Regions from separate parts of the Homo sapiens genome. Here region 1 is linked to region 2. Evidence: fine-mapped expression QTL. A gene starts in region 2. The other region holds a variant in brackets. All regions are shown on one strand. Distances are from middle to middle. Region 1 overlaps ADORA2A-AS1 (ADORA2A antisense RNA 1). Region 2 holds the start of UPB1 (beta-ureidopropionase 1).

Evidence for each region. PIP is the estimated chance that this variant, and not a neighbour inherited with it, causes the effect.
Region 1: its variant is fine-mapped to the expression of UPB1 in whole blood (INTERVAL, PIP 0.97).

Annotation. Positions count from the first base shown.
Region 1 is chr22:24,467,007-24,483,138 of GRCh38, reverse strand. It overlaps ADORA2A-AS1 (ADORA2A antisense RNA 1), which reads left to right. Exons shown (of 7, transcript NR_028484.3): 2 at 7,986-8,156; 3 at 11,244-11,371. Among named protein-coding and RNA genes, the nearest start is that of ADORA2A-AS1, 20 kb to the left of the region's middle. RefSeq lists a silencer at 3,418-3,605. The variant A/T (reference allele first, on the strand shown) is at 9,043.
Region 2 is chr22:24,486,180-24,501,515 of GRCh38, reverse strand. UPB1 (beta-ureidopropionase 1) reads right to left here and starts at 6,184. Exons shown (of 10, transcript NM_016327.3): 1 at 6,009-6,184; 2 at 1,238-1,409. The coding sequence starts at 6,112. ADORA2A-AS1 (ADORA2A antisense RNA 1) reads left to right here and starts at 6,442. Exons shown (of 7, transcript NR_028484.3): 1 at 6,442-6,826.

The DNA.
Region 1 (16,132 bases), 19 kb after region 2:
GATAACATTACCAAAAGTACCGTGCAGGTCCAGAGAGGTAGGAGAAAAAAAATATCTGAGAGGTATGGAGAAAAAAAATATCTGAGTTAGGAGAAAAAAAATACCTGAGCCAGAGGGATGTGTGGAAGGCACAGGAAGGTCAATCAAAAAGAAGGAAAAGCAAGACCACAAGCAGAAAAAGATAGCCATTGCAGAGTAGCTAGTCTATCTGGAACATAAGAGTAGATGAAAGTCTGCGTTGAGACAGTGTATGTGTAGCAGATCTAGAGAGTTCTAGAGACATGTGTGCTAACGAAAGGACCATAGCCATAAAACCCTTTACTGTAGTCACAGGAGAAAATGATTGCATGAATTTGTAAAAACCGGAAGGATAAGACACAAGCCTGAAAATTATTCAATTAAAGGAAGGAAGATTGCAGACTGCTTAGTCACCTGAAGAGAGAGAATAGAGCTTACAAAATGAGAGGAGATGATTACATCACTTAAGTGAGCATTGATCAAGTACTTGGCAGGACAAGTGGAAATGTTTTTCTTTTAAATAATTCAAGCCTGCAGTCTTCCAATTCAGTTTAAGATAGTTTGAGTCTGCTATATATAAATGTGGATAGTGTTCCAGTGATAAATGAGTAGAATTCAAAGGAGGAATAAGTAAAACGTATTATCTGTGTTCAACTAAGAGTGCATGAATAAAGCCCTGGTGGTAAATATACAGTAGCCTCCATTTGAAGGTGTATAAGGGAAAGGAAATACTATTTGCTTGTTGACCTGGATTATAATGTACTTAACCCATATTATTCTAGTATAATTAGAGAGAGTCAAGCCTGATGCTCCAAAGACATTTCTGTTTCTTACATTCTGTTTCTATCAGATAGACTTAACTCAAAATCTATGACAGACTCTCATGGCTGGTTGCTCATATTTCTCTCAGTATTTTCCTGAGTTAATCAGTACAGAAAGTGGCAGGGAACCAAATGATGTTAAAAGAGTATTAAAGCTATAGGCATATAATATAGGATTATATAGTAATGATACTGTTTAACTGATCATTTTTCTGTTCATTGGGAAGCGGTGTTCTTATTTTATTAGAAGCAGCATGGTACAGTAGCAAAATTGTGTTTTTAAAGTTCTAACTCTGCTATGTATTAGTTATATAAGTTACTTTTTTGAACTTTCTTTTATTCTTTATCATGAGATGACAGTACTTGCTTGAATGGTTGCTTCAAGGATTACATGAAAAGCAGGTCTGGGAAATAATTAGCAGTCCAATGCCCAGCTCTCAGTAAGGGCTCAGACATGTTAATTCTCCATGTCTCCCCTACAGGAAAGCCTCTCATGAAGTTGCCTAAGGAGCACAACCCCTGGAATAACCTTAGTGTTGGTTACTCAAGAAATCTGTGTTTTTTTTTTTCGAGGGTAGATTTTACTTTTGAAAAAACAGAAATTAACTCTGAGCTAAGTTAATGGATGATCAGGTTAGAGGTGTTCACAAATAAAGTATGACTGTGAAATAATTGGCTTCCTTGTTGGGATTGTAGATGGACTCTGAAAGCAACTCCAACACAGAAGTTCCAGAAAAGTGTTAAAGCAAAAACAACATTTTTGGAATCAGTTTTGGATAAATTCTTGTATGCTTAAACTTCAGCATTGTTACTTTATAATCACACTTCATTTCCGTGGAAAAGGTGCTGCAAACAGAATTGATAATAGAGACCAGTGGAGAGTGAGGAGAAAATAAAACCAAAGAAAACATGTAGAGGCCATCCCACTGACACAGAGCCTAATTGAAATATTTTTAAATTCTTTCTTTAGATACAACTCAAGCCTGGTTGCTAATGATTTGTAAAGTCTCATTTCTGAATCTATATTATATTATATTCTCTCAGAGCAAAGCAGTCTTCAGCTCAGTATACCATACCTTAAAATAAATGTATCTTTGTCTTTGCTAATATCCTTGAGTTTCCAAGACTTAAAAACTTAAGCCTGATTCTTTGTTCTTACATTAAACTTTTACTGTCATTCCTGTTTGTGAACTGTCTTGCATCCTGCCCCTTCTCCAGTCTTACTGCATCCACCATCATCACCTGCCTGCCTGGATCTTGCCTGCGTCATTGTATTAGCAAAGAAGCTGTATTAGCTAGGAAGCTAATTTCTCCTATTTCAGTGTGTTTGTCTTCTAGTAGAGCCTTTTCAGCGTAATAGTTTAAGCTTAATATTCCTAAAATAACACTCCCATCTTATGTGTATATTTATTACAATACCCGACATTGATGTATAGGTAATTGTTTATGAGAGAATCATTTAGTTTCAGAATTTTTGATTCGATTTTGAGATATTTGAAAGCATGAACTATTTTATTAATCTGTGTCAGTAGTGCTTAGTACAGGGTCTTGCATGTAGCTGTGTCACTTCAAACAAGTTCTTTAATGGCTCTGTGCCAAAGTTTCTTTGTCTGTGAAGTGGGGATAATAATATCTTTCTCAAAGGATTGCTTCATTAAAAGAGTATGTATATATGTGTATCAAAAGGTAGTTTTTCTATTATAGCTTTTGTATATGTTCACTTTTTTTTTTTTTTTGAGACAAAGTCTTGCTCTGTTGCCCAGGCTGGAGTGCAATGGCATCATCTCAGCTCACTGCAACCTCTGCCCCCCAGGTTCAAGCAATTCTCCTACCTCAGCCTCCTGAGTAGCTGGGATTACAGGCGTGTGCCACCAGGCCCAGCTAATTTTTTGTATTTTTAGTAGAGATGGTGTTTCACCATGTTGGCCAGGCTGGTCTTGAATTCCTGACCTCAAGTGATCGCCTGCCTAGGCCTCCCAAAATGCTGGGATTACAAGCATGAGCCACCACACCTGGCCACTTTGGTGTTATTATAGCACTCAAAAAAAGTTACTGCTTTCTGGCTGGGCGCAGTGGCTCATGCCTGAAATCCCAGCACTTTGGGAGGCCGAGGTGGGTGGATCATGGATCGAGACCATCCTGGCTAACATGGTGAAACCCCATCTCTACTAAAAATACAAAAAATTAGCAGGGCATGGTGGCAGGTGCCTGTAGTCCCAGCTACTCAGGAGGCTGAGGCAGGAGAATAGCGTGAACCCGGGAGGCGGAGCTTGCAGTGAGCCAAGATCATGCCACTGCACTCCAGCCTGGGTGACAGAGCTAGACTCTGTCTCAAAAAAAAAAAAAAAAAAATTACTGCTTTCTTATTTTAGGCAAACTCCTTTTTTCCTTATTTTTTTTTTTGGAGATAGGGTCTCATTCTGTCGTCTAAGCTGGAGTGCAGTGATGCTGTCTCGGCTCCCTGCAACCTCTGTCTCCTGGGCTCAAGCCATTTTTCCTCCTCAACCTCCCAAGTAGCTGGGACTACAGGCGTGTGCCACCACGCCTGGCTAATTTTTGTATTTCTAGTAGAGACAGGTTTCGCTATGTTGCCCAGGCTAGTCTCGAGCTCCTGGACTCAAGTGATCTGCCCGCCTCAGCCTCCCAAAGTGCTGGGATTACAGGCATGAGCCACTGTGCCTGGCCCAGTTTCTTGTTTTTATCTTGTCTCTCCAGTAAGAGTGTAAGCTCCTAGAGGACAGGGACCATCCTATATTTCTTTCATATGCCCTACTATACATGGCATAGTTCTGGGCTTTTATTCATTAATTTAATAAGCATTTCTTAATGAATATTTAATGTACAATATTATGTCATGGGATATAATAATTAATAAGACAAGGTCTTTAATAGTGTTGAGGCACCTCCATCCTAATGCGAGCTAAAGATACTAGTATTTAGTATTTCACTTAGTGCTATGGAAGACTTTGTAGCAGATGATTAATATTCTCAGATCTATTAATTACATAAATCTGGGCTCTAAGCAGAGTATGAGCAGGGTGAGTGCCTGGCAATAAGGGCTCCCAGTCTGCAGCAATATCTGAGGTGAGACATGATAAAGGACTGAACTAAAGCCCTAGAAATAGAGTGGGGATGGATTCAAGAAGCACTGTGGAAATGAAAATCAAAGGGATTGTGATGGCTCCAACATAGAATATGAGGTGTAGAAGACAAGGATGTTCAGGATGATTCTGGCCTCTTGTCTGAGTATTGGTTTAATAATATAAGCCATTTAGGAAATAAGAGCCATGAGGAGAAAAAGCCAGTTTGGAGATTAAGATGCCCCTGGGACCTCCAGAAGGAGATCCCTGTGAATGGCTGGAAATTCAGGTCTGGGGCCTAAGGATTGGAATTTGGACTAGAGAGAGAAAAAACTGGAAATTTTAGCAAATAGTGGTTGTTGAAGCCATGGGAATAGAAGAGATCAGGATGTGGAAAGATGAGAAGTATAAAGTACCTGAGACAGAAATGTTCAGAGAAGTTAGAGGAGATGCAGGAATCAGCAGGCCCCCAGTGTCAGTGTCCAGCAATATTAATGCTGCAGTGAGACCAATTTGCCATTATGTGTTGAATTCAGCGTTTGAGAGAGTATTGAAAAGGTGGTCCCTGGCTCAATAAATAGCGATCAGAATGAATTGAATAGAGGGCAAGAAAGGGTCTTTGAAGATGAAATAGGGCCTTTTTTTTTTTTTTTTTTTGAGACAGTGTCTTGCTCTGTCGCCCAGGCTGGAGTGCAGTGGCGCATCTCAGCTCACTGCAACCTCCACCTCTAGGGTTCAAGTGATTCTCCTGCCTCAGCCTCCCAAGTAGCTGGGATTACAGGTGTGTGCCACCACACCCAGCTAATATTTTTGCATTTTTAGTATAGATGGGGTTTCACTATGTTGGCCAGCTGGTCTCAAACTCCTGGACTCAAGCAATCCACCTGCCTCAGCCTCCCAAAGTGCTGGGATTACAGGCGTGAGACACCATACCCAGCCTTCAGCTATGATTTCTTTTTCTTTCTTTCTTTTTTTTTTTTTTTTTGAGACAGAGGCTCACTCTGTCACACAGGCTAGAGTGCAGTGGTGCGATCTCAGCTCACTGCAACCTCCGCCTCCCAGGTTCAAGCGATTCTTCTGCCCCAGCCTCCTGAGTAGCTGGGATTACAGACAAGTGCCACCATGCCCAGCTAATTTTTTGTATCTTTAGTAGAGACGGGGTTTCACCATGTTGGCCAGGCTGGTCTCGAACTCCTGACCTCGTGATCCACTTGCCTTGGCCTCGCAAAGTGCTGGGATTACAGGTGTGAGCCACTGCGCCTGGCCTGGGCTTTTTAAAAATGAAGCTTTCTTGAACATTTCTTGTGAGAAGTGGGAAAAAGGCCAGAAGAGAGAGAGAAATCAGTATCTGTAGTGTTCTAGGATATGGGCTAACCCCTTTACATGATTTTGTGTTTAATCTTCATTATCACCTTATAAGCAGGGGTGTCCTATCCACTGGGCATGAGACTCAGCATGGTTAACTAACTTGCCCAGAGGAGTCAAGAATTGTTTGACTAAGACTAAACCCTTTCCACTACACGTGGCCATTTCCAGGCTGTTATCCATCTCTAATCCTTCACTAAAGAAAGTGAAGTTGGTCTGGATACAGAAGAGGCTGGAAAGGTTAGTGGGGCCAAGGTCACTGTGGACAAACTGCATGAGAGGAATAGGGACACTGTCCCCATGACAGGAGGCAGGATATAAAGAATAAACTACACAGGTAAGACCTAGAGATGGAAAGCCTCCCTAGAAGTGAGAACTGAGGGAGCATACTGGAGCCTTAGCTGGTCATTTCCTAAGAGGGAGGGGTAGAGGAGGGCATTATGCAGAGATCAGGAAACACTCAATAATTGACTACTAGAAATCATAGCTGGGGACAGGCACAGTGGCTCACACCTGTAATCCCAGCACTTTGCGAGGCCAAGGCAAGTGGATCACGAGGTCAGGAGTTCGAGACCAGCCTGGCCAACATGGTGAAACCCCGTCTCTACTAAAGATACAAAAAATTAGCTGGGCATGGTGGCACTTGTCTGTAATCCCAGCTACTCAGGAGGCTGGGGCAGAAGAATCGCTTGAACCTGGGAGGCGGAGGTTGCAGTGAGCTGAGATCGCACCACTGCACTCTAGCCTGGGCGACAGAGTGAGCCTCTGTCTCAAAAAAAAAAAAAAAAAAAAGAAAGAAAAAGAAATCATAGCTGAAGGCTGGGTATGGTGTCTCACGCCTGTAATCCCAGCACTTTGGGAGGCTGAGGCAGGTGGATTGCTTGAGTCCAGGAGTTTGAGACCAGCTGGCCAACATAGTGAAACCCCATCTATACTAAAAATGCAAAAATATTAGCTGGGTGTGGTGGCACACACCTGTAATCCCAGCTACATGGGAGGCTGAGGCAGGAGAATCACTTGAACCCTAGAGGTGGAGGTTGCAGTGAGCTGAGATACGCCACTGCACTCCAGCCTGGGCGACAGAGCAAGACTCTGTCTCAAAAAAAAAAAAAAAAAAAAAAGGGTGACCAGGCTTGTGCTCACACCTGTAATTCCAGCACTTGGGGGAGCTGAGGTGGGAGGATCACTTGAGGCTGGGAGTTTGAGACTAGCCTGGGCAGCATAGTGAGACCCCATCTCTTAAAAAAAAATGGGCAAAAAATTTGAATGGACACCCACCAAAGAAGATGGCAAATAAGCATAGGAAAAAATGCTTAAAATCATGCATCATTAGGGAATTGCAAATTAAAACAACGAGATCCTACCGTACACCTATTAGAATCTAAAACATTGACAACACCAAATGGTGATGAGGATGTGGAGCAACAGGAACTCCCATTCATTGCTGGTGGGAGTCAAAACAGTACAGCTACTTTGGGAGAGTTTGACAGTTTTGTATAAAATTAAACCTACTCTTGCCATATGGTCTAGCAATTGTCCTTTTGTATTTAGTCAGAGGAGTTGAAAACTTATGTCTACACAGAAACCTGCACATGAGTGTTTATGGCAGCATTATTCACAGTTGCTAAAACTTGGAAGCAACCAATATGTCCTTCTGTAGATAAATGAGTAAATAAACTGTATGGTACATCCATATAATGCAATATTATTCAGTGCTAAAAAGAAACAAGCTATCAATCCATGAAAAGACATGGAAGAACCTTAAATGCTTATTATTAAATGAAATAATTTGAAAGGCTGTATATTATATGATCCCAACTATATGTAATTCTGGAAAAGACAAAACTATGGAGATAGTAAAATGATCACTGGGTGTCAGGGGCTTTAGGAGGAAGAGATGAATAAATAGACCAGATGGGATTTTTAGGGCAGCGAAACTATACTATATGATACCATAATGATAGATACATGTCATTATACATTTGCTAAAATCCATAGAATATACAACACCAAGAGTGAACCCTAATCCAAACATATGGACTTCGGGTGATAATGACGTGTCAGTGTTGGTTCACTGGTTGTAACAAATGCACCACTCTGGTGCTGGATGTTGGTAGCAGGGGAGGCTGTGTGTGGAGGCAGGGGGTCTGTGGGATAGCTCTATGTGTTCCACTCACTTTTGCTGTGAACTTAAAATGCCCTTTAAAAGTCTACATAGGCCGGACACAGTGGCTCATGCTTGTAATTCCAGCACTTTGGGAGGCCGAGGCAGGTGGAATGCTTGAGCCTAGGAGTTTGAGACCACCCTGGACCACATGGTGAAACTCCATCCTACAGAAAAACACAAAATTAGCTGGGCATGGTGGTGTGTGCCTATAGCCCCAGCTACTCAGAAGGCTGTAGTGGAGGATCACCTGAGCCCTGGAGGTGGAGGTTGCAGTGAGCTGAAATTGAGCCATGCACTTCAGCCTGGATGACAGAGTAAGATGCCATTTCAAAAAAAGTCTATGTAAAAAAGTTGAGGGGGGAAGGATTGGGAAATCAGTATATTGTAGAAAAACTATGTGAAAATATTTTATGTTTACATAAAATTAAGTTCCATTCCCTAAAGAATAAGGGATAAGATATAGAAAAGCTCTAGATTCTCAAGATGATGGAGAGCACCCAAAGCATTCTTTTTCTATTTTATTATTTTTTTTAGAGGTAGGATTTCACTCTGTCACCCAGGCGGGAGTGCAGTGGTGCGATCATAGCGGGGACTACAAGTGTGCACCACATGCTTGTCTACGAACCTGAAGTATTCTGATGCAGTGGAGAGAGTGTAGAACTCTGGAGTGAAGAGATCTGCCTGGAACCCTGACTCTATCACTAGGTAATTCCTATAATCTCCCTAGGCCTGTTTTCTCAGCTGGAAAATTGATTGATTTGTGGTATTTGAAGTGCCTTTGAGCTTGGGATATCCATGCTGGTGTTTGGCTACAGTATAGCATAGTGGCTAGAGCACAAACTCTGGAGTTAGAATGTTTAGGTTAAACCTCAGCAACTCACACCAAAGGTATGTGACTGTGGGCAAGTTATTAGCCTCTCTGAGCCTCAGTTTCTTCATCTGTAGACTGGGGATAATAATAGTAAATATACTGCTGAACAGTTTTAAAGATTCAATGAAAAAAAAATCTATAGAAAGTGCCCGACACACAGTAAGTAGAAGATAAATATAAGCTATTATAATTACAAAGTGTATATGCTGTTATTCTGATACCCTTTTGCTACCGCTGAGAGCACACTACTCTATACCTACATATAGTTGCAAGGAACAGGAGGTAAATGGAATTAACCAATTGGAGTTTGCCAGGTTCCCCGTTTGGGAAAGGAATGAAAGGAATCTTCAAATATCTGAGTGGTCAGGACCTCTGGGTTATGACTCAGCTACAGTCAACTGTCAGATTTTCCCACAGCTCAGTGGAAAGTCACTGAAGACTCCGTGAAAACAGTGCCATCTCTCCTTCAGTGTTTCTCTGCTAGGATGCACTGCTGACTCTGGAAGTCTGACCATATTTTTGTCCCAGCAGGCAGAGGGATTTAAGCAGGCTTGGTTGATTTTTCACCCAAAATGTCTGCAACTGTTTCTGCTGTACTGATGATGCCACAAGGCTCAAGCCTGTGAGAGTTTATTGTCAACCCCACTGCAGGGCATCAAAGAAGAAAAGTTTGGGGTCTGGATTGTTTTTCCAGGCAGGAACAATGATGTAGTGACTATC[A/T]TAGATTATTTCAGAGTTCAGAATCTCATGTCTCAATTCCCCTTGCTGCTCTCTACCTTTCTCTGTGGATGAAATTAAGATTATGGATGATGGCCGGGCGTGCTGGCTCATGCCTGTAATCCCAGCAGTTTGGGAGGCCGAGATGGGTGGATCACCTGTGGTTGGGAGTTCAAGACCAGCCTGGCCAACATGGCAGAAACCCCATCTCTATTAAGAATACAAAATTAGCCGGGCATGGTGGCGCATGCCTGTAATCCCAGCTACTCAGGAGGCTGAGGCAGGAGAATCACTGAACCTGGGAGGCGGATGTTACAGTGAGCCGAGATTGCGCCATTGCACTCCAGCCTGGGCAACAAGAGTGAAATTCCATCTCAAAAAATAAAATAAAAAATAAGATCATGGATGTCAGCTTGAAAGATAACATTAGTGATAGTCACTGAGATTTTTTTTTTAAGTTTTCTCAGATTGCCCCAGCAGAAGCTCCATCTGTTAATGTAATTGTCCACAGATTAAACAGAAGTGGAAACATCCACATAATTTGCTTATAATTCTAACATCTTTTGAAATCTTAGGTCACTTCCTCAAATTTGAGTTCAAGAACCCTTTTTATCAATCTGTTTGAATGTTTCTCAATCTTCCTCTTTCTAGCCTTGCAGAGAAATCTCACAGCCAGATCTACACCATGATGTTCAAGTAACTGAGGGGCTAGTGATCTGGGACAAAGTACCTTTTCTTTCTTATGTTCCCCTTCTTAAGAGTAGAGTTGCCATGGTCCAAAGCTGGTCTGGAATTTCCCCTGCATTGAGGTCTACCCAATACAAGAATCGATTTTAAACCTAAATCTCTCGCCCAGGTATGAATTTCCTTATGGCTGCCCCAGGACTGGATACTGGATGCCATTCAACAAATATTGGTTTTTATTACACCCCTTTTAATAGCATTTTAGTGGCCTTGGCACCTCAACTCTGAATGTTTCTCCCTTTGGCCCTCCTACTTCTCTGTATACCTTTTTGTCTTCAGGTGGATCATTGGGATCTGCCCTTGGCAGAAAAATCTACACTGTGGTACTTGAAATGCCATGATATACATCTTAAAACAAATTTTTTTTTGGGACAGGGTCTCCTCCCTCTGTTGCCCAGGTTAGAGTGCAGTGGGCACAATCATAGCTCATTGAAACCTTAAACTCCTAGGCTCAAGCAAGTTTCTCACCTCAGCCTCTTGAGTAGGTGGGACTACAAACGCACAACCACCATGCCTAATTTTTTTTCTTTTTTGTAGAGACAGGGTCTTGCTATGTTGACCAGGGTGGTCTTGAACTCTTGGCCTCAAGGGATCCTTCCACCTTGGCTTCCGAAACAGCTGGGATTACAGCCGTGAGCCACCATGCCCAGCCATGATATACTTTTTTTTTTTTTTTTTTTTTTTTTTTTTGAGACCGAGTCTCATTGTGTTGCCCAGGCTTGAGTACAATGGCGTGATCTTGGCTCACTGCAACCTCCGCCTCCCAAGTTCAAGCGATTCTCTTGCCTCAGCCTCCCGAGTAGCTGGGACTACAGATGTGAGCCACCACGCCTGGCTAGTTTTTGTATTTTTAGTAGAGATGGGGTTTCACCATGTTGGCCAGGCTGGTCTTGAACTCCTGACCTCTGGTGATCCACCCACCTTGGCCTCCCAAAGTGCTGGGATTACAGGCATGAGCCACTGCGCCCAGCCGAAATACATTTTTTAGATGAAGAAATTGAAGCCCAGAAAAGGTAATTGGTTTTCCCAAGGTCATATAGGGACCTACACATTAACAGAGGTCAAGCCCAGAACACTGACTTCCCTGAATCCTGTTCCATAGTGACACTGTTAAGCCAGTAAGTGTCACCTTTTTAAAAATATGTATTTCCGAAGTAGGGGTTAGGAGGAATGGAGGGAATGAAACGCTCACTGAAGAAAGGATAGGGCTAAAGGAAGGATAGAACCCACACAAGGAAAGGGCTCTGGGTAGGCAGAAGGCCTAGGGAAATAGTATCTGGCTGTGGACAGGGAGAGGAGGTGCCATGGGGTGAGGAAAAGGCACAGAGAGAGTTGAGAGACCACCATCACCACATACTTGGCCTGCTTGAAAATCTAACTCGGCCAAACAGATATAAGTGCCCCTCCAGATCTTATTATTTCTACAGCTGTGACTTAACTGCTGCTTATCTTTCCTCCAGGAGATTCCTTGGAATGAAACCAATGGGAGTCCAGGGTTTGGGAGAGTCTCATCAGAGCAGATGGGCGAGCAGCAGCCAGAACGCTTGTTGCCTTTGGCTGAGAACACTATCCTGGATCTGAATGTCTTGTGAGCAAACCCCAGCAGGCTCAGCCTTAGGCCTGAGTGAAGTTGGCCTGCTTCTCCTTAATGAACCTTGTGTACTCTCTCATCTCCCTTCCCCTCTTTTGCATGTTGAAAATCACATTCTCAGAGCACTCTTGAAGCTAAAACCACGTTGCCCGTTAGCAGCCCCAGTAGGATGGCATCTTAATGCTTTTGGTCCCTTGATATATTTGGAAGTGTACTGCATGGAGGGTCAGGAGGCCTGGTTTTAGCTCTTACCCAACCACTAATTTTCCCTGAGACCATAGGCAAATTGTTCATCCCTGGGCCACACTTTCCTTAGCTGTAAAGTTGTTTATAATAAGAATAGCTTTCATTTAGGAAATTTTTACTGTATACCAGATATAGTATCATTGAATTCCTTCAACAATCCTATGGCATGGGTACTTTTTTTTATATGGAATCTTGCTCTGTCACCCAGGCTGGAGTGCAGTAGTGCTGTCTTGGCTCACTGCATCCTCTGCCTCTGGGTTCAAGCAATTTCCCTGCCTCAGCCTCCCAAGTAGCTGGGATTACAAGCATGCACCACCATGCCCGGCTAATTTTTGTATTTTTAGTAGAGATGGGGTTTCACCATGTTGGCCAGGCTGGTCTTGAACTCCTGGCCTCGAACGATCCGCTTGCCTCAGCCTCCCAAAGTGCGGTGATTACAGGCATGAGCCACAGCCCCTGGCCAGCATAGGTACTATTGTTGTCCTGCTTCACAGATAAGGAAGCTGAGGCTTAGAATTTTTATACCCTAACCATCCCGTTTAAATTACTAGCCCTTACCCATGGCCAGCACTCCTTTCTCTGCCTTATTTTAGCCATAGCAGTTTTTTTTTTTTGAGATGGAGTCTCGCTCTGTCGCCCAGCGCAAGCTCACTGCAAGCTCTGCCTCCTGGGTTCATGCCATTCTCCTGCCTCAGCCTCCTGAGTAGCTGGGACTACAGGCACCCACCACCACAGCTGGCTAATTTTTTTGTATTTTTAGTAGAGATGGGGCTTCACCGTGTTAGCCAGGATGGTCTCGATCTCCTGACCTCGTGATCCGCCCGTTTCAGCCTCCCAAAGTGCTGGGATTACAGGCGTGAGCCACTGCGCCCGGCCAACCATAGCGTTTATTACCATCTAAGATGTTACATATTTTACTTTTTGGGTTGCCCTCTCCTTCTGTGAGAGTGTAAGCTCCATTAGGGAATGGATTTTTATCTTTTTATTCCTGTTGTTATTGTTCATTTGCTGTGTCCCCAGGACCTAGAATTGTGCATGGTTCATGATAGGTACTCAATATTGGTTGAATGAAAAAAGTGAGTGAATGAATTCTTGTTAGGAGTGTAAATTGGTATAGATTCTAAGGAAGTCATTTTGGCAATAGTAATACTTAACATGTGCTAACCTTTGGACCCTGCAACACCAGAACTAGGAATTTATCCTATAGATGATGTATTCATGTGTCTGCCTAAAACCATGGGTACCAGGCATGGTGGCTCGTGCCTATAATCCCAGCACTTTGGGACGCCAAGGCAGGAGGATCACTTGAGCTCAGGAGCTCAAGACCAGCCTGGGCAACATAGTGAGAGTCCATCTCTACCAAATATATAAATAACCAGACATAGTGGCACCTGTCTGTGGTTCAAGCTACTTTAGGGGCTGAGGCAAAAGGATTGCTTGAGCCCCGGGAGTTGGAGGCTGCAGTGAACCATTATCATGCCACTGCAGTCCAGCCTGGGTGATACAGCGAGACCCTTTCTCAAAAAAAAAAAAAAGACTAGAAACAAGATATTCATCAATAAGATAACTCATTAAATAAAGTGTGATAGGTCCCTCCAGTGGGCTTCTATGTAGAAGTGGAAAAGAATGCAGTAAATCGAGGCTGGGCGCGGTGGCTCATGCCTGTAATCCCAGCACTTTGGGAGGCTGAGGCGGGCGGATCACGAGGTCAGGAGATTGAGACCAGCCTGGCCAACATGGTGAAGCCTGGTCTCTACTAAAAATACAAAAAAATTAGCCGAGCGTGGTGGTGGGTGCCTGTAGTCCCAGCTACTCGGGAGGCTGAGGCAGGAGAATGGCATGAACCTGGGAGGCGGAGCTTGCAGTGAGTCAATATCGTGCCACTGCACTCCAGCCTGGGTGACAGAGCGAAACTCCTTCTCAAAAAAAAAAAAAAAAAAAGAGAATGCAGTAAATCTGCATGTGCTGATACACAACAACCTAAGAGATATTAAGTAAAAAAAAAGCAGAGTATAAAATGGTATATCACTTCCTTTCATTTGTATGAAAAGAAAAAGTATGATAGATTTTAAGATGTACTTGTTTATGCCTAGAATCTTTCTAGAAAGAAAGCTAAGAAACAAATAGTTGCCTCTGAGGAGGGGACAGAAGTTTAGGTTGGGATGGAGAATATCCTCTTACTGAGGTGTAATTCACAAACCATATAATTCACTCATTTAAAGTGTATAATTCACTTTATATGAGTGAATTACTTTTGGTATATTACTTTTAAAGATTATGGTTTAAATATATATATAACGTAAAATTGGCCATTTTAACCCTAGCAACATAGCAAGCCTAGGCAACATAACAAGACCTCATTGCTGCAAAAAAAAATTTTTATATTATCCAGGCTTGGTGGCACATGCCTGTAGTCCCAGCTACTCGGGAGGCCGAGGTGAGGGGATTGCTTGAGCCCAGGAGTTTAAGGCTGCAGTGAGCTGTGATTGTGCCATTGCACTCCAGCCTGGGCAATAGAGCAAGACCCTGTTTCAAAAATATAAAAGAAAATAAAATATTTAAAAATTAAAATAAATTTTAAAAAGAAAGTATAACAGGTTTTGAAAACTTAGTAATTTGCCTAAGATCGCACAGCTCATACTCCATAGTAGCAACCATCAGTTTTATTATAAAGTAATAAAAATTCTTACAAAGAATGAAGTTTTAGCCATCTTTCTGGGTGTTATAAGGGATTTTGGGTATCATCTAACCCCTTCATTTTACAGGATAACAGATTCATTGAGGTGAGATGGCTACCCCAAGTTAGGAATCCCATCAGTAGCAGGCCTCCTAATCCAAGGGACGGGATTTAGAGTAGGTCACAGAAGAGGTCTTTTGCTCTTTGACAAAACAAGTAGGGTTTGAATCTCTCCTGCCCCAAAATGAAATTTAGGAGTCTCTTACTTGAGACATCTCTTTTTTTTTTTTGAGACGGAGTCTCGCTCTGTAGCCCAGGCTGGAGTGCAGTGGCGCTATCTCGGCTCACTGCAAGCTCTGCCTCCTGGGTTCACACCATTCTCCTGCCTCAGCCTCCCAAGTAGCTGGGACTATAGGTGCCTGCCACCACGCCTGGCTAATTTTTTGTATTTTTAGTAGAGACAGGGTTTCACCGTGTTAGCCAGGATGGTCTTGATCTCCTGACCTCATGATCCACCTGCCTCGGCCTCCCAAAGTGCTGGGATTACAGGTGTGAGCCACCACACCCGGCCAGATATCTCTCGTATGTCCCATGCACCTGTACTGTCTAGTAGGAGGGAATGGGCCCACTGTGCCCTGATATTATTGTTTCTGTTTATCTGAAACTATGCAGCAAGCCTTCAGAGCCTATCTCAATTTCTACTTGTGAGAAAATTTCTCTGATTGTCCTACCACATCCAATTCTCACCTAATTCTTAGACACATTAGTATTTGAAACATATAATTAGCCATCAGAGAATGATGTGAGGCATTTTATAGCTGTGTCCATTTATGAGTCCATTCTGCCCACTAGTGTAAAGCACCAGAGAGGCCAGAGGTAGGTGACTGATTCCTGCTAGAAGGTCCCCAATAGATGGTTGTTGGTTGCTTGGATTAATTGAGCTGTGCCGTTCTGAAAACAAACGAACAAACAAACAAAAAAACCCTATGATTTTAGATATGAGTTATTCCAAAGGCTTCTCTGCACCTCCCCGCAGAGCTACATACTAGGTCACAGAACATTGGAATTGGTGGACATTGTGGCTATCCCTCAGTTGCTGAGAACCAAGTGTGACCCTTCCCTGTTTTTCTTACCCTGGCATTAATTACACCTTCATTTATGTGATTGTTTGATTACAGTTCATCTTCTCCTCCTCCCTTCCACCCCCAATAGACTAGAAATTCCATGAGAACATAGACTGTCTGGCTTGACTCATCATCGTATCTCCAGCACCAAGCCTGGCACATAGTAGGTGCTCAAGAAATATTCGTTGAAGGACTGGATGAATGAATATAGTACCTTATTTTATAGATGAGGAAGCAGAGGCCCAAAGAGGTCAGGTCAGTGGCAGAGCTGGGACAAGAAGGCAAGTCTCCTGGTTCCTCAGCCAGCATTCTTTCTGTTTTCCTCTGTATCCTCTCAGCATTAGAATTGGAAAATCTTGGAACCTAGTCTTAAACACTTTTATTTTGCAAATGGGAAACTGAGGCCCAGAGAGGGGAAAAACTTACCCAAGGCCACAGAAAGAGGCACTGGCAAAGCAAAGTCTGGTACCTAGGTCTCCTGACTCCCAAGCTAGTGCTCTTTCTTTGTAAAAGCACAGAAAAAACAAAGCTGAATTGGGCTTCTTGCCAAGCCCCTGCAGGAGGTCACATAGCTGAGCAGCTCTCAGAGTTCCTTGTCTATTCTTAGCCTGAACTTTTAGTGACTCTGGTCTTCAGCAGCCTTTTTCCCCTTTTTTCCTTTGCATTTGGTCTGTTGTGTATATGTAGTGTGTGTTTTAAATAAATGGTGCT
Region 2 (15,336 bases):
TAACTCAGCATCCCCTGGCCTTCGGGAGCCATTGTGTGCCACTGCTTTGTGTGCCACTCTTCCTCTGCTGTCTGTCACTCCCAGGACCCCACAGGCTCCTTGGGGATAGGAAGAAAGCATCCTCATTGTCTGCTTGTCCTTGGCACAATGCCTGGCTCCCAGGAGACATTCAAAAGCGTTTGTTCAAAGACAGACCAAAGGAACCAGGCTGAAAACCCAGAGCGCACAAACTCTCCACAAGGCCTATAGTCTCCTCCTTTGAGAGGCTGTGCACCCCATGGCTTTGTGGATATTTGCTGACAGCATCAGCCCCGCAAACACACATTTGCTTGGTGTTAGCAAAACGCAAAGCATACTTCTAGGCCCTGTGCACGTGAAAAAAACATAGCTGGTCCTATGACTTGACAGTCTGGGATGATAGAGGGGACATATCCACAAAAAACAAATCCTGATACAAAAAGTGAGAGAACTGAGAACCAGACATCTGTGAATCCAACAAAAGCAAAGGAAGGACCAATGTGAATGATGATGCAGAACCAAACCTGGAATCCAAGAGGCCTTAGGTTTCTCCAGAATCCCTAAGAATCCTCAAACACGCCGTATCCTGAGGAAACCTGTGCAGGAAAATCCCTGAAAGTTTGAGCAGCTGGAGGAATGCTGTGGAGAAGTGTATAAAGCAAACCACCTGCGCCTGTGACAACATGTTTCTTTAGGGAGATACAAGATGCTGTCACCTTTATTTACTAACTCTGAGGTCATAAGCGAATGCCTATCTATTCCCGTAATCCTGTAGGCACCACAACTGACAGACTTCTGGGTATAGCGAGTCCCCGCCCTGAGGATTAAGGCAGAAGAACACACGGACAGACGGTCCCAACCAGCGTGTGCTGGCTGGCCGCCTCCTGGCAGGCAGCTGAGAGGCAGCGTCCCGTGGAGAGCACGAGCAGGCCAAAAGGGCACCCTCCCGGTTGGTAAATGGAGCTTCAGATCAATAGCTGGAGAGAAGTGGAAAGATCAGTGAGGAGGAGGGAGAGACAGAATAAGAACAGGAAGACAGAAGAGCCAGAGATGCAGGCTGGAGGGATGTGGGGAGGCCAGGGCAGAAGCGCCTCTGCTACTGCTTGAGGCGCCCAAGCCTGCAGACCCGGAGTATGCGGCCAGCCAGGGCCTGCAGGTGTGCTCCAAGGGCAGGCCACAACCCTGTTTGTGTATTTATTATGGTCAAAAGAGTCTGCACCTGTTCTGCCACAGGGGCATTTGCGGGGAGGGGGATTCTGTTCTGAACCAGCCCCACGTGCACAATGCGGGGTCGTCTCAGCTGCTCCTCCGCTGCTTCAAAGGCATATCCCTGCAGTTCAAAGTCTTCTCTGGAGGCAGCTTCGAAAGCTTCCCTGGGCAGATCAAGCTTCCTAGATGGGCAGGAAAAAAGAGGGAAGGGGATTTTGATGCAGTCTGCTCCACTTAAAATCTCTCTCCCATTTCTTGTAGCTATTTATCAGCCAAAGAGGTGAGGATGTCCTGGCTAGAAGGCGCTCAGTGCCAGGGCCCAAGGGAGCTGGCGAGCAGTGGGGTCCAGCCATGACAGAACACTACACTGAACCTGGACTTTACCTGCAATTGGCAGGGAGACCTCAGCAGAGTCAGCACGGTTAGGCCTGGCAATGGGGAGGCCAGTTAAGAGGTTGGTGTTTTAGAGTTGCTGAAATCACGGTAGGAATTAAAGTCCTGGCAGTCAGCACAGAAAGGAGGGAACAGATTCTCAAAAGTGTTTCTGAACCAGAATCAGGGCTATGCTGAGCCTAGGGTGTGAGGCAGGCTGTGGGAGCCGAGGGGCTTGGAAAATGGGGCTCAGGAGACAGGTTGGATGGAGAGGCCATGACCTGGGATCACATGGATGGCCTTATGGTGAATAAAGACCCTGGCCACTCTGTCCTGCTGCTCCTGCTGGGGGAGGCCAGTTCTACATCTGGTGTTGGGTGGGCTTGGAGGGGCCCAGGTGTTCAGATGGAAGCCCTAAGTGCTCATCCACATTTGTAGTTTATTAACCAAGGCTAGAGAATTAGTTATAAAACCTTCCACTGAAGTGACCATTAGCCAAACAGCAAATACCTCCTGATACCTGTTGCACACCCGAAGGTGAAAGCCACAGAGGCATGGGATGGGACACGGCCCCTAGCCAGGAAGGGCTTACCATCTAAGCGCAAGATGATTATGAAATACTCAGAAAACACATCAAAAAATAACCTGACAGCCATTATCTAATAATAATATTTCTCTCCTACTTTAAATCACTTTCTTGGAGACGTTTCTTTCAAAATCACAGCCCTGTCAGCCCAAGCCCCCTGTCGCCGCCCCCTGCCAGGCACTTTCCATGTGACGGCCCTGACAGCTCTGAGTTCGGTTCCGCCCCTGACAATCAGCCTGCTTTTCAAGTAGTCAAGGTTCCCTTCACTCCAGCAGGTTAGAAATAGCAGCAGTGCCCACACCGTGCCTCTCCTTGCTGTGACTGCCTTAGACAGTCCTCCCACCCTCCAGCGGAAGGGCGCTCCTGCAGGCCACAGCCTCAGAGCAAATCCCCTCTGGTGGACATAAATCACGCAGCTTTCCAGGATATGGGTGTGGGCAGACACCAGGAGAAAAAGGAGCAAGGCTTATGTGTCTATTCCCTCGAAGGCCTGTGGGCCTGGGAGCCAGACAGCTCTTTCAGAGTGTCCTGGTGAACCCTGCCTGGCCTCTCAGCCTGTGGTCTCACACCAGGAAAATGTCAGGTGAAGAGCTCGTCTTGGGTGTGGAAACATGGCTGTAACCACCACCTGGCTGAAGTCTCTCTCCTCATCTTCCCACCATGCACAACCTCCATTACCTACCCTTCTTCCCCCAAGTGATGCCTCCGCCTAGCCAGCCCTGAGGCTGCCCACCTCCTTATCCCCAGCTCCCTGCGAGCTCATTCTAAGCCAAGGTAATACAGGAGAGGCCGCTCCACCCTCCAGGACAGCCACCTTTGGGGCTCTACCTCCTCCCAGCCACTCCTGTCTACTATCTGGGCAGTACCTGTAAGGCCTCTCTGCCCTCCCATTATCAAAGGCGGTGCATTACCACATCCTACACAGCTTCATCTTGGAGAACCTAACCAATCCTCAAGCCATACCCTGTGTAGACGCAGTCAATGACCATGTGCTGTGCCCACCGAAAGGCCTGGTACAGGAGATGCAGTGGAACACTGAGACAGACTGAATGCTTATGTCTGCCCCAAATTCATATGTTGAAATCCTAATCTCCAATGTGATAGGGCTCTTTCAGAGGTGATTAGGTCATGAGGGTAGAGTCCTTTTAAAAGACCAAGAGGGCATGCTTGCTTCCTGCACCATGTAAGAACACAGTGAGAAGGCACCATCAAAAACCAGAAAGTGGGCCCTCAACAGACACCAGATCTGCTGTGGCACCTTGATCTTGGACTTCATAGCATTCAGAACTGTGAGGAATAAATTCATGTGGTTTAAGATGGGGAAAGAGACCGCAGCCAGATGTTGGTTACAGCCAGGGTTGCACACTCAGACAAGAGCTCTGCCACCTGACTTCTTCCTGGTGTGAGACCACAGGCTGAGGACAGTGTTCACTAGGACGTTCCCAAAGGGCTGTCCAGCTACCAGGCCCACAGACCTTTGGGGAAACAGACACACAGACCCTTCTCCTTTTTCTCCCTGTGATTGCCCACAAGTACAGGGAAGTCTGGTATTCTGTTATAGTAGCCCAAAAGTACTAAAACATCAATCAGCCACTGCCCAGGAGGACAAGACCAGCAAATGAGCCATAACCTCACAGACGGCCTCCTGCTGCCACTGCCTGCCCTGGTCCCTGTAGTTGGCTTTCAGACCCTCTACCCCTCACCCTGCTACTGAGGCCTCCCCACTCAGGGCTTCCCTTCAAACTTCAAGGAGTAAAGCCCTTCACTTCCCATCCTAGCCCCACCATGCCCTTCAGGGCCCCCACCTCTCCCACCCAGGGTCAGGCAGACCTTGCCAGAGGACACCAAGTTCCTGCCTCCTCAGCAACCTCTCACTTCTGGAACTTCATCTTTCCATGTCTGATGGCTCTTTACCACCAGCACTTTAAATCATTAAACTAGAGCTCTGTTACAAAAGAGACATGTGCTCATGGCGGGGGTGAATCAAATAGTGGGAAAGGGTATAAAATGAAACATACATTCCCCTTTCTACCCCACCCCTAGTCCCAAAACTCAGAGGCAACCCCTCTTAACAATGTTTTATGTCTCTTTCCTATTTTCCTACGTGTATGCATTACAAATACAATGGTATCATTCTGTATTTTCTGTTCTTCAACTTGCCTTTTTCACTTAATACACATAGCTTGGACATCTTTCTCCACTAGTACCTACAGACCTCCACATCCATCACTGAAGCTGTTAAAGAGTCTCTCCCGTTGAAAAACAGAAGGGAGATAGGGGGGAGAGAAGGTGAGGAAGAAAGAGAAAGAGGGACAGTGTTCCACATATGTCCATGTGTTTACTCACTTGCTGTCTCTCCCTGCTGCCTAGGGAGCTTCCACACATGCTTCCCCTCAGCTCAGGCCTTACCTCCTGGCCCCATCTCAGGAACTGCCAACAGCCTTATCATGGCTAAATCCAGCAGACTTCCTGCTGTCCTCACCCGCTAGACATTTCTGAGCCATCTGATGCTTCTTTCCTGTCCTGCCCCAGAGTCCTCACCTCCAGAATCTCCCACAAAGTCTCTTTCTCTGACCCCTTGAATATCCAGGTTTTCCAGCATTCTCTCCAGCGCCCTCTTTTGTACCTGCTCCTCCTTCACCTGGAATGACCATCTCCAGGGCAGCTCAACAAGCCCAGCCTCGCCCACCTGAGGCCCACCTCCACATAGCAAATAGCCCCTGAGTTATTTCCACCTGCAGACCCTGAAGCTACTGTAGCAGGTTGAGCTGTGTCTCCATCCTGACACCTGGAACCTGTCATTGTGATTTTATTTGGAAAAAGGGTCTTCACAGACGTAATTAAGGTCAGGATCTCAAGATAAGATCATCCGGGATTATCCAAGTAAGCTCCAAATCCAAAGACGTGTGTGTGTGTGTGTGTGTGTATGTGTGTGTGTGTGTGTGTGTGTGTGTGTGTTTGAGACAGGGCCTCACTCTGACTCCCAGGCTGGAGTGCAGAGGAGAGATTTTGGCTCACTGCAGCCTCGACCTCCCAAGCTCAAGTGATCCTCCCGCCTCAGCCTGCCATGTAGCTAGGACTACAGATGCATGCTACCATGCTTGGCTATTTTTTTAAATGCTTTATAGAGATGGGTGTCTCACTATGTTGCCCAGGCCGGTCTCGAACTCCTGAGTTCAAGCAATCTTCCAGCCCTGGCCTCCCAAAGTGCTGAGATTACAGGTGTGAGCCCGGCCAGGAAGTGTCTTTTTCAGCTTTGTGGACACAGTGTCCAGCAGTATACAGCCCTCAGAAAGTCCTGGTGATGCACAAGCTTGCAGGGAGTGGAAAAACCAGCGCCCATGGCTTGCCAGTGGGAAAGGTTCCCTCGCCAACTAAATGCAGACAGCCTCTATTTCCAAGGGTCAGCCAGAGGTCGGGTCACCGCAAGAAGGATGGTCTGGGGCCGGACAATCAGTACACCTGCTGGGTGCTCTGGTTGGAGACAGTGATCCAGCCAGACATCCAGAAGACAAGCCCGGCTCCGGGGAGGAGGGTTGGGATGGCCACAGAGAAAGCCCTGGAGAGTAAAATCCCGTCCTTTTCCTTCCGGTTCTGGGCAACGTGGGGGAGAAGAGATTTGTAAAGGTCACGCCAGGATTCTGCAACCCCCAAGGACCCCGGGGCCGTCCCATCAAGACCTACTATGGTCTCTGCCCGCCAACTCAGGACTTCTCACCGCCTCCCCTGAGCCCTTCAGACCCTGAGGCCCTCCCTGCCTGCTCCCCCAGACCCACACTCTGTGGCCCCAAGACCCCATTAGCTTAGCCTCTTGGCTGCGGACCTGAGTTCCTTGCCATAGAGAACGCGCTTCACTTCCTGCAAGTCGGGGAGCGGCAGGTGCTTCTCCAAGCATTCCTCCAGCGACTTCCACTCAGCGCCCGCCATGGCCACGGTCCGCCAGTGCTTGTGTCCGCGCACGAACTGCCTGCCCTTTGCCCGCAGTGGGAGGAGGTGCCCAGGCCCGGTCAGGCGCCCTTGCCTTTATCTCTTACTCTCGCTCCCAGACAGCTCAAGTGAGGACACGCCACTTCCTCGCGCAGCCAATCCGCCTTCCAGGGCTTCGCGGGTGGGACCGCCCCTGGCCTTTAGCGCTCCTTCGGCACGTGCCAGGACACGTTCCTCTTGCCGCCTCCGCAGCACACGGCCAATCAGCCTCCAGGGCCTCACGTGGGGAGGGGGCGAAAGGATCCGGCGCTTGCCCTTCGCCCCTTGCCCTTCGCCTCTCGGTTAGCAAGCGATGAGGCACGCCCCTCCACAGGCGGGACTGCGCGGAGTCGTCGCGCCTCGGCTGCGAGTCAGGACTGAGGCTGTCCCCCTCCCGCCTCCCTCAGGGGCCCTGGCGCGGGTGCCTCCAGGTTCCACCCCTCACCTGCCCCTTGGTGTCGGGCCGGGACCCTGGAGAGGTCGTGAGGGAGTCCTGGGCGCGGGCTCCGGGAGGCTGCGGCGCGGGTCTGAGGTAAACGGCCCGGCCGCTGCGGGCCCTTGCGGGGGCTGGTTCCAGCAGCAACCGCCGGGCAGGGCCCCTCCCGACCGCGACCTCCTGTCCGCACCGTAGGGCAGCCGGCCGGGCCAGCCTCCCTCACAGGACTACCGAGGAAGGTAAGGGAAGAGTTTCAGTGTCCCACGGGCACGCGGCGGCTGCACCTCTGTCGTCCGGAGCCTTTATGTCTGGGGAGTTTTAACCCCCGAGGGGCCAGGCTCGGAGTCCATGCCGCTACCTGGGTCGCGCGTTCCCACCCCCGGCTTTGGGGCCGCTGGAGCCGAAGGTCAGTTGCTCGCCTGCGGTTCCGTGCGCCTCGGTGGAGCTAATATTGTAAAATGCGGGGTCCCCGGGTGAGGGCGCGCCCCCTGCACCCTAGGGCCCCTTTTCAGCCCTGCCCTCTGCCGCGTGTGTGCAAATATGGGCACTTTCCTGCGGTAGGGTGCGCTTTAAACTGTCACTGAGATGGTAGGAGTGAGAGCCCCATTTGCTGTTACCGCGAATCCAGAGGGTGCCATCCCTTCAGGAGCAAAGAAGCGTCCTCTTTGGGGTCCTATTGAGAATTAGGGCAGTAAGGCCCGCTTACTTCGGCGGGCAGCCGGGTGAAGGAACCAGTCTGTAGAAATCCTATTCAGCCACTTGTAAACCTTGTGACCCCAGGAAAGTTTAACTTAGTCGCTGGAGGCTTCTGTTGCTTTATCTGTAAAATAGGAATGCAAAGATTACGCTGCGGGGTTGTTTAAAAGTCAGAAAAGGCCAGCACGGTGGCTCATGCCTGTAAACCCAGCACTTTGGGAGGCCTAGAAAGGGGTATTGTTTGAGGCCAGGAACTCCAGACCAGCCTGGGTAACACAGCAAGACCCTGTATCTACAAAATAATGTTTTACAAATTAGCCTATCATGGTGGTGCGCACCTGCTTCTTGGGAGGCAGAGGTGAGAGGATCGCTTGAGCCCAGGAGTTCGAGGCTCCCTAGCTATGATCTTAACACTGCACTTCAGCCTGGGCAACAGAGTGAGACGCAATCTCAAAGAAAAAAAAAAAAGAGGCAAGTAAAATGAGCACAAAGGGAGCTAATTTATATCTAGAATCAGCTACTAACATTAAAAATATTATACTTCAGGTATTTTGTTTCAGCTGCTAATTCACAAGTTTTGTTCCTTGTTTTGATAAATGTTAGCTGACGGTTTCTAGTATCTGATGGAGCTGCCTTCTCAAGAGTGCAAACTCTGAGGACTTTCTATGTGTAAGGCACTGCTAAGAGAGCCATATAAAGACAGATAAGACCTAGTACCTTTTCTTTGTGATTTAAAGTAAAGACGGCTGGGCACGTTGGCTCACACCTGTAATCCCAGCACTTTGGGAGGCCGAGGCGGGCAGATCACCTGTGGTCAGGAGTTCGAGACCAGCCTGACCAACATGGTGAAACCCCGTCTCTACTAAAAATACAAAAATTTGCCGGGCATGGTGGCGCATGCCTGTAATCCCAGCTACTCGGGAGGCTGAGGCAGGAGAATCGCTTGAACCCAGGAGGGGAGGCGGAGGTTGCAGCGAGCTGAGATCGTGCCATTGTACTCCAGCCTGGGCAACAAGAGCAAAACTCCGTCTCAAAAAAAAAAAAAAAAAAAAAAAAAGGAAAGACAAACTTGTAAATACAGCAGATTTAAATAATTTGAGATGAAAAAGATACTATGGAGTGCAAAGAGGTGATTTCTGGCTTAGAGAAATTGTTGGAGGTCTCATGGAAGAGGCTTCAAAGCCAACTCAAAATGCTTCAAACTGAATGAACTTTCACCTCCTTTCTCAAGCAGGCTCTTATCTTCTTTTGTTGTTGTTGTTGTTGTTGTTACAGAGTTTCGCTTTTGTCGCCCAGGCTGCAGTGCAATGGTGCGATTTTGGCTCACTGCAACCTCCGCCTCCCAGGTTCAAGCGATTCTCCTGCCTCAGCCTCCCGAGTAGCTGGGATTACAGGCGTGTGTCATCACACCCAGCCAATTTTTTGTATTTTTAGTAGAGATGGGGTTTCACCATGTTGGTCAGTCTGGTCTTGAACTCCTGACCTCAGGTGATCCGCCTGCCTCAGCCTCCTGAAGTGCTGGGATTACAGGCATGAGCCACCGCGCCCAGCCTCTTATCTTCTGCACTGTATTCCCTATTTCAGTAATGGCCTCACCACCCACTGATTTGCCAAGTTTTTGAGAGTCATCTGCAACTCCTCCATGTTCTTTCTTTCCTCAATACAATCAGGCATCAAGTTCTGCTAAATTTATCTCCTGGATTTTGTTCATATCCTTCCTCCTCCCTCCTCATGTCTGCCTCCTGTCATCTTTTGCTTGAATTGTTGCCAGTCTTGTAACTTGTCTCTCCACCTCCAATGTCTATCCTTAGTTGTCTTTCTAAAACTAGTATCTTACCATCCTTTGTACCCTCTCATTCAGTGTATCCCTACCTGGAATCACCTTTCATCCTTCATTTTGTGACCGCCTTCTCATCCTCCACCATGCAGTTGAAACATCACTTCTGTAAAGACTTCTCCAATTGTCCCAGAAAAAGTTAGGCTCCCCCAGGCCTTCATAGATAGTTCTCTTGTTACATTTATTAAACAGTATTGTGTAGTTATTTCTGTGCTGTCCTCAGAAAATGGACCGGATCTACTTTTGTATCCAGAGGACTTTAGCACTCAATAAATGATTATTGAAGGAATCAACTCTGGGATCATGGACAAATTCATTAAGGTGATAACACTGAGCTGGACCTCGAAGCAGTAGTAGAAGCTATTATTACTAGTTAAATTGTTTAGTTCATCTTTCCCTATTGTTCAGTGACAGGTCATTCGTACTTGTTCATTGTAAACCAGTGTTTCATAAATAAAACTTAGGATTTAAAAAGTTGTATTAAAAATGTTTATATTTGCCCAATTTACTTTTTACTCTGAATGATAGCAAGACACTTCACTAGCTCTTTCTGTGGTAATCATTTTGTTTTTTGCTTTTTTTTTTGAGTTGGAGTCTCCCTCTGTCACCCAGGCTGGAGTGCAGTGGAGCAATCTCAGCTCACTGAAACCTCCACCTTCTGGGTTCAAGTGATTCTTGTGCCTCAGCCTCCAGAGTAGCTGGGATTACAGGCACACGCCACCACGCCCGCCTAATTTTTGTATTTTTAGTAGAGATGGGGTTTTACCACGTTGGCCAGGCTGGTCTGAAACTCCTGAGCTTAGGTGATCTGCCCACCTCAGCCTCCCAAAGTGTGGGGATTACAAGCGTGAGCCACTGCGCCCGGCTCTGTGGTAATCATTTAAAAAGACTTAAGGCTTTGCCCTAGTTTCTTTCTGAAATATCCCACCAACCCAAAAGGTTATAACTGCATGAAGCATACTAGAGTGAGGGATTCTTCCTTGTTTGGAAGAACAACTCTTTCTCTGGCAACATGGTGTGGTTTAAGGATATATAACCCATAATTTGGTAAGTGTATACAAACATGGGCAGGAAGGACAGAATACACACAACTTCAACATGATGGATACCTCTGGAGAGAGAGATAGGGGAATGAAATAGAAGAATGGGAATTATCTGTTGATAGATAATGTTTTAATTCTTTTTAAGAGATCTGAGACATATGACAATATTAACATTTAAAAAATCTGGGTGCTTATTATTACCAATACTTTTCTTTATGTTTGAAATATTTTTTTAAAAAATTATAGAAGAAAAGAGACTTAGAACAGGAGTCAGAAAACCTGCAGTTTAGTCTGGGTTCTACTTTAACCTCAGTTTTCCTGTTATAAAAAAGATAGGGGCCAGGCACGGTGGCTCAGGCCTGTAATCCCAGCACTTTGGGAGGCCGAGGTGGGTGGATCACTTGAGGTCAGGAGTTGGAGACCAGCCTGGCCAACATGGCAAAACCCCATTTTCTACTAAAAATACAAAAATTAGCTGGGGATGGTGGTGCGTGCCTGTAATTCCAGCTACTGGGAGGCTCAGGCAGGAGGATCACTTGAGCCTGGGAGGTAGACGTTGCAGTTAGCTGAGATCGTGCCACTGCAGTCCAGCCTGGGCAACAGAGCAAGACTCCGTCTCAAACAAAACAAAACAAAAAAAAGGGAGGGGAGGGAACTGGTGAGACAGTCTATAGAGATGATGTAAGTCTTGTCCTAATTCTAATAAAATATGATTCTAATAATCTAGCCATGTATAAATTCCTCTATATGCTTATTTGTGAGAAAACAGTTTCATTATAGAAGCTGGTTCTGCAGAAGGAGCTTATTTTTAAAAATGTATTAGTGGGGCTGGGAGCGGTGGCTCATGCCTGTAATCCCAGCACTTTGGGAGGCCGAGGCGGGTGGATCACGAGGTCAGGAGATCGAGACCATCCTCGCTAGTACGGTGAAACCTCGTCTCTACTAAAAAATACAAAAAATTAGCTGGGCGTGGTGGCGGGTGCCTGTAGTCCCAGCTACTCAGGAGGCTGAGACAGGAGAATGGCATGAACCCAGGAGATGGAGCTTGCAGTGAGCTGAGATTGCACCACTGCACTCTAGCCTGGGCGAGACTCCGTCTCAAAAAAAAAGTATTAGTGTCTGTTTTTAGGTATTACTTTTAAATTCACAATATGTGTTTATTTCAATCCTTAGGGAAGGTATTTAAAGTACTTTTTAAAAAGTAATGTGTATAGGTAATTAAATTTTTTTATTTTTAATTTTTGTGAGGACATAGTAGGTATATATATTTGTGGGGTGCATGAGATGCTTTGATACAGACATGCAGTGTGTAATAATCACATCATAGTAAGTGGGGTATCCATCCCCTCAAGCATTTATTCTTTGTGTTACAAACAATCCAATTATACTCATAGTTATTTTTAAATGTACAATTAAATTATTGACTATAGTCACCCTGTTCTGCTATCAAACACTAGATCTTACTCATTCTTTCTAACTACTTTTTGTACCTATTAACCATCTGCACTTTTCCCCCATCCTCAACTACCCTTCCCAGCCTCTGGCAACCATCCTTCTACTCTCCATCTGCATGAGTTCAGTTGTTTTAATTTTTAGCTCCCACAAATAAGTGAGAACATGTGGTTTGTCTTTCTGTGCCTGGCTTATTTCACTTAATGACCTCCAGCTCCATCCATGTTGTTGCAAATGACAGGATCTCATTCCTTTTTATGGCTGAATAGTACTCCATTGTGTATATGTACCACATTTTCTTTATCCATTCATCTGTTGATGGACATTTAGGTTGCTTCCAAATCTTGGCAATTGTGAACAGTGCTGCAACAAACATGGGATGCGAGTGCAGATATCCCTTAGATACACTGATTTCCTTTCTTTTGTGTATATACCCAGCAGTGGAATTGCTGGATCATATAGTAAGGTACTATTTTTACTCATTTACATTTGAAGGACTAAAATGTTATGATGATCAATGGTGAACAATTCTAATAAGGGCCATGACATGGAGATCCCACCAGTCTTCTCCTATGACCCAGAGGGGCTGTTTATGCCCTCATTTAGCACTTTACAACACACAAAAGGCTTTTGCGTCATCTTGTCGCATTTGATCATCCAATAATACTGTGAGGTAAGGGGATAGGGTTTTTGGTATTTGTCAGATTTCCAAGTTAAACATGGTATTTACTGGAAAGAAACTGTAAGAGCCAATATTTTACTTATAGTCAAGGGAAAAAAGATCTGAGGTGACCCAATTTCTAAGCAACATTCTAAAACCCAATTTCTGGGTTAATTTGTCCCTACATTGCATTCCTTAGCCCAGAAGTCACAATTCTTTTTTCACTAGCATTTTTTATTGTTTTTTATCCTTATGTAGACTTAAGTGTCTCACATGAAAAAGTCTTGGAGTAGCCCACCCAAACTTACCAAAAATGGATTTTGCAGCAGAGCAAGGCCAACCCAGCCAAAATTGTGACAAATAAGGTTTTACGGCCCCCATTTTAGCAGCCTCCTTTTTGTCCCTTGTTTTTGTTGTGGGTTTCTTCTCCTCTCATGACCAGCTCTGCTTTACTCATAGTAAACCTTCTTTATTCATATTAAACCTCTAAAGTGTTTTTAAAATTTTATTTTTAATTGACAAATAATAATTGTATATATTTATGGGGCACAATGTGATGTTTTGATACATGTATACATTGCGGAATGATCAAATCAGGCCAATTAGCATATCCATCACCTCAAATATTTATCACTTCTTTGTGGCTATTTTGAAATAAACATTATTGTCATTATTATTAATTATTTTTAGAGGTGGGGTCTCTCACTCTGTCGCCCAAGCTGGAATGCATTGGCACAATCATGGCTCACTGTAGCCTCAACCTCCTGGGTTCATGCGGTCCTTGCAGCTCAGCCTCCCAAGTAGACCACAGGCACGAGCCACCATGCCCTTTTTTTTGTTTTGTTTTGTTTTTTGTTTTTTGGAGACAGGGTCTCATTATGTTGCTCAGGCTGGTCTTGAACTCCAAGGCTCAAGCAGTCCTCCTGCCTTGGCCTCCCAAAGTGCTGGGATTATAGGCATTATAGGCATGAGCCACCATGTCCAACCTGAATCTGTTGTTTCTTAAGGATAAAGGAATGGCATGTCTTTGAGTCTACAGTGATTTGCATATAACTGGCACTCAATAAATGATTGTTGAATCAAATTGGACACCATATCAGTATTGATAAATATTTAGAGACAAGGTCTCAATTTGTTGCCCAGGCTGGAGTGCACTGATGCAATCATAGTCACTTACCGGGTTCCTTTAGCTATATTAACTCAGCGGCTTATTTAGCCTGCTTTTGAAAAAGACCACCTTTGGCTGTAGCAGATTTATAATTATTTCCTTTCAACATGACTTCTAGCTGTCTCTGCACCCTGGTTATCTAGAACACAAGTGGTCTAAATCCTCAAGTGGCTCTAACAATGGTAGATATTGGGGGAGCTGCTTCATATAGCACAAATCTGTTTACTGGGAAGTCGCTGGTTCAGCATCTCATGGTTCATCCCTCTCTGATTAGCTTCCTGGCCCATATTCCCTTGGATTAGGAGTTTGGTGGGATCCTTAGCCATAACATTCTTGAGTTGCAGAGAATGTGTATCTCAGATCCCATTTTCAGAAATGTCCTTGCTGTAGATAACAGACAGTTACCTACTTGTATCTTGAGAAATAGTAGTGTAAGAGAAAGAAGATTGGTCTGAATACTGGTTAGAATATAAATATGTTCTAATCCTGGTTTTACTATTAGGTAACTGAAACTTTAGGTGCATTATTTGATACCTCTTCCTAATCTTCAAAGATATTAGACTAATTCTCATAGATTCTATGATTTTATGATTAACGGAGTATGAGATCCTTTTTAAAATCCAGATGGCAAGGGCAAGCAGAGCAGATGTTGCCTGACACTTACAGGAGAACGCCCTGGATAAGAGTGCCTTAATCACACGGACTGGGTCTCACTTGTGTGGGAATACCATGGGTCCCATAAGGACTGAACTGGACTAGAAATGAGAACACCCTGGATATGAGTGCCTTAATCACATGGGGTGGGTCTCACTTGTGTTGGAATACCATGGGTACAATAAGGACTGAACTGAACTAGAAATGAGGATAATGATACCTTCCCCACTTTCTTGAAGGAATGGAATAAGCTAAGTTGAAATATCTTTGAAAATCTATATAGCATTATCTCTATAGATGCTATTTTTAATCAAGGAGAAGGTGTTTAGATATAATTCTTCCATGGCAAATTATAAATATACCATCTTTAATGTACTGGATACTTATCTTTGCGTTGTTTTTTTCAGTGGTGATAATGGCTTTGCATTGAATCATTTATAGTCTTTCCACCAGTTCTTCTCGGGATAAATAGCATACATTTGAAAGATCGGTAATTTTGAGAAGGCTGCATGAGACCATGAAACAAAGCAAAGCTGACTAGCCTAAGCTGAACTCCAGTCCATGACTCATCACTAGTTTGTCTAATCATTTAGGATAGCAAACTAAGCATAGGCTTATGTATGACAGGAATGCAAAATCCCAGGTTGAATTTTTGGGCCCCAAATTTCATGAAGTATCAATGTGATAAATCTTTCTCTTTACCACTTCCTCCCCGCTAAAACAATTGCAGAAGTATGCATTGGGCCTAGCAGCAGTACGTGTGGCTGAATTAGGGGTATTGAGTTGACTAGAAGCTCAATGTGAGTCAACAGTGTGTGTGGCTGCCAAAAAAAGCTGATATAATCTTAGGTTGCATTATGAGAAGTATAGTGTGCAGAACACAAGGAAGATGACTATCTCATTCTGTTCTGTGCTGACCAGAGCACACCTGAAATTAATCTAGCTCTGGGATAGCTACACGACATATAGATCATCTTGAATATGCAGAAAAGAGAGATCTAACAGCAACAACAACAACAAAATGTTAAAGGCACTTGGAACATATATTTAGCAAAACAAGGCAAACAAACTCAGGAAGGATATTGTCACTTCATTCAGATTTCTGAAGGGGCCACATATAAGAGGTTTTTATTTGTTCCACATGTCCCTAAGGAGAGGAGCTGGAGTCAATGGATAGAAACTAAGGGAGGAGGCCAGGCGTGCTAGCTCACGCCTGTAATCCCAGCACTTTGGGAGGC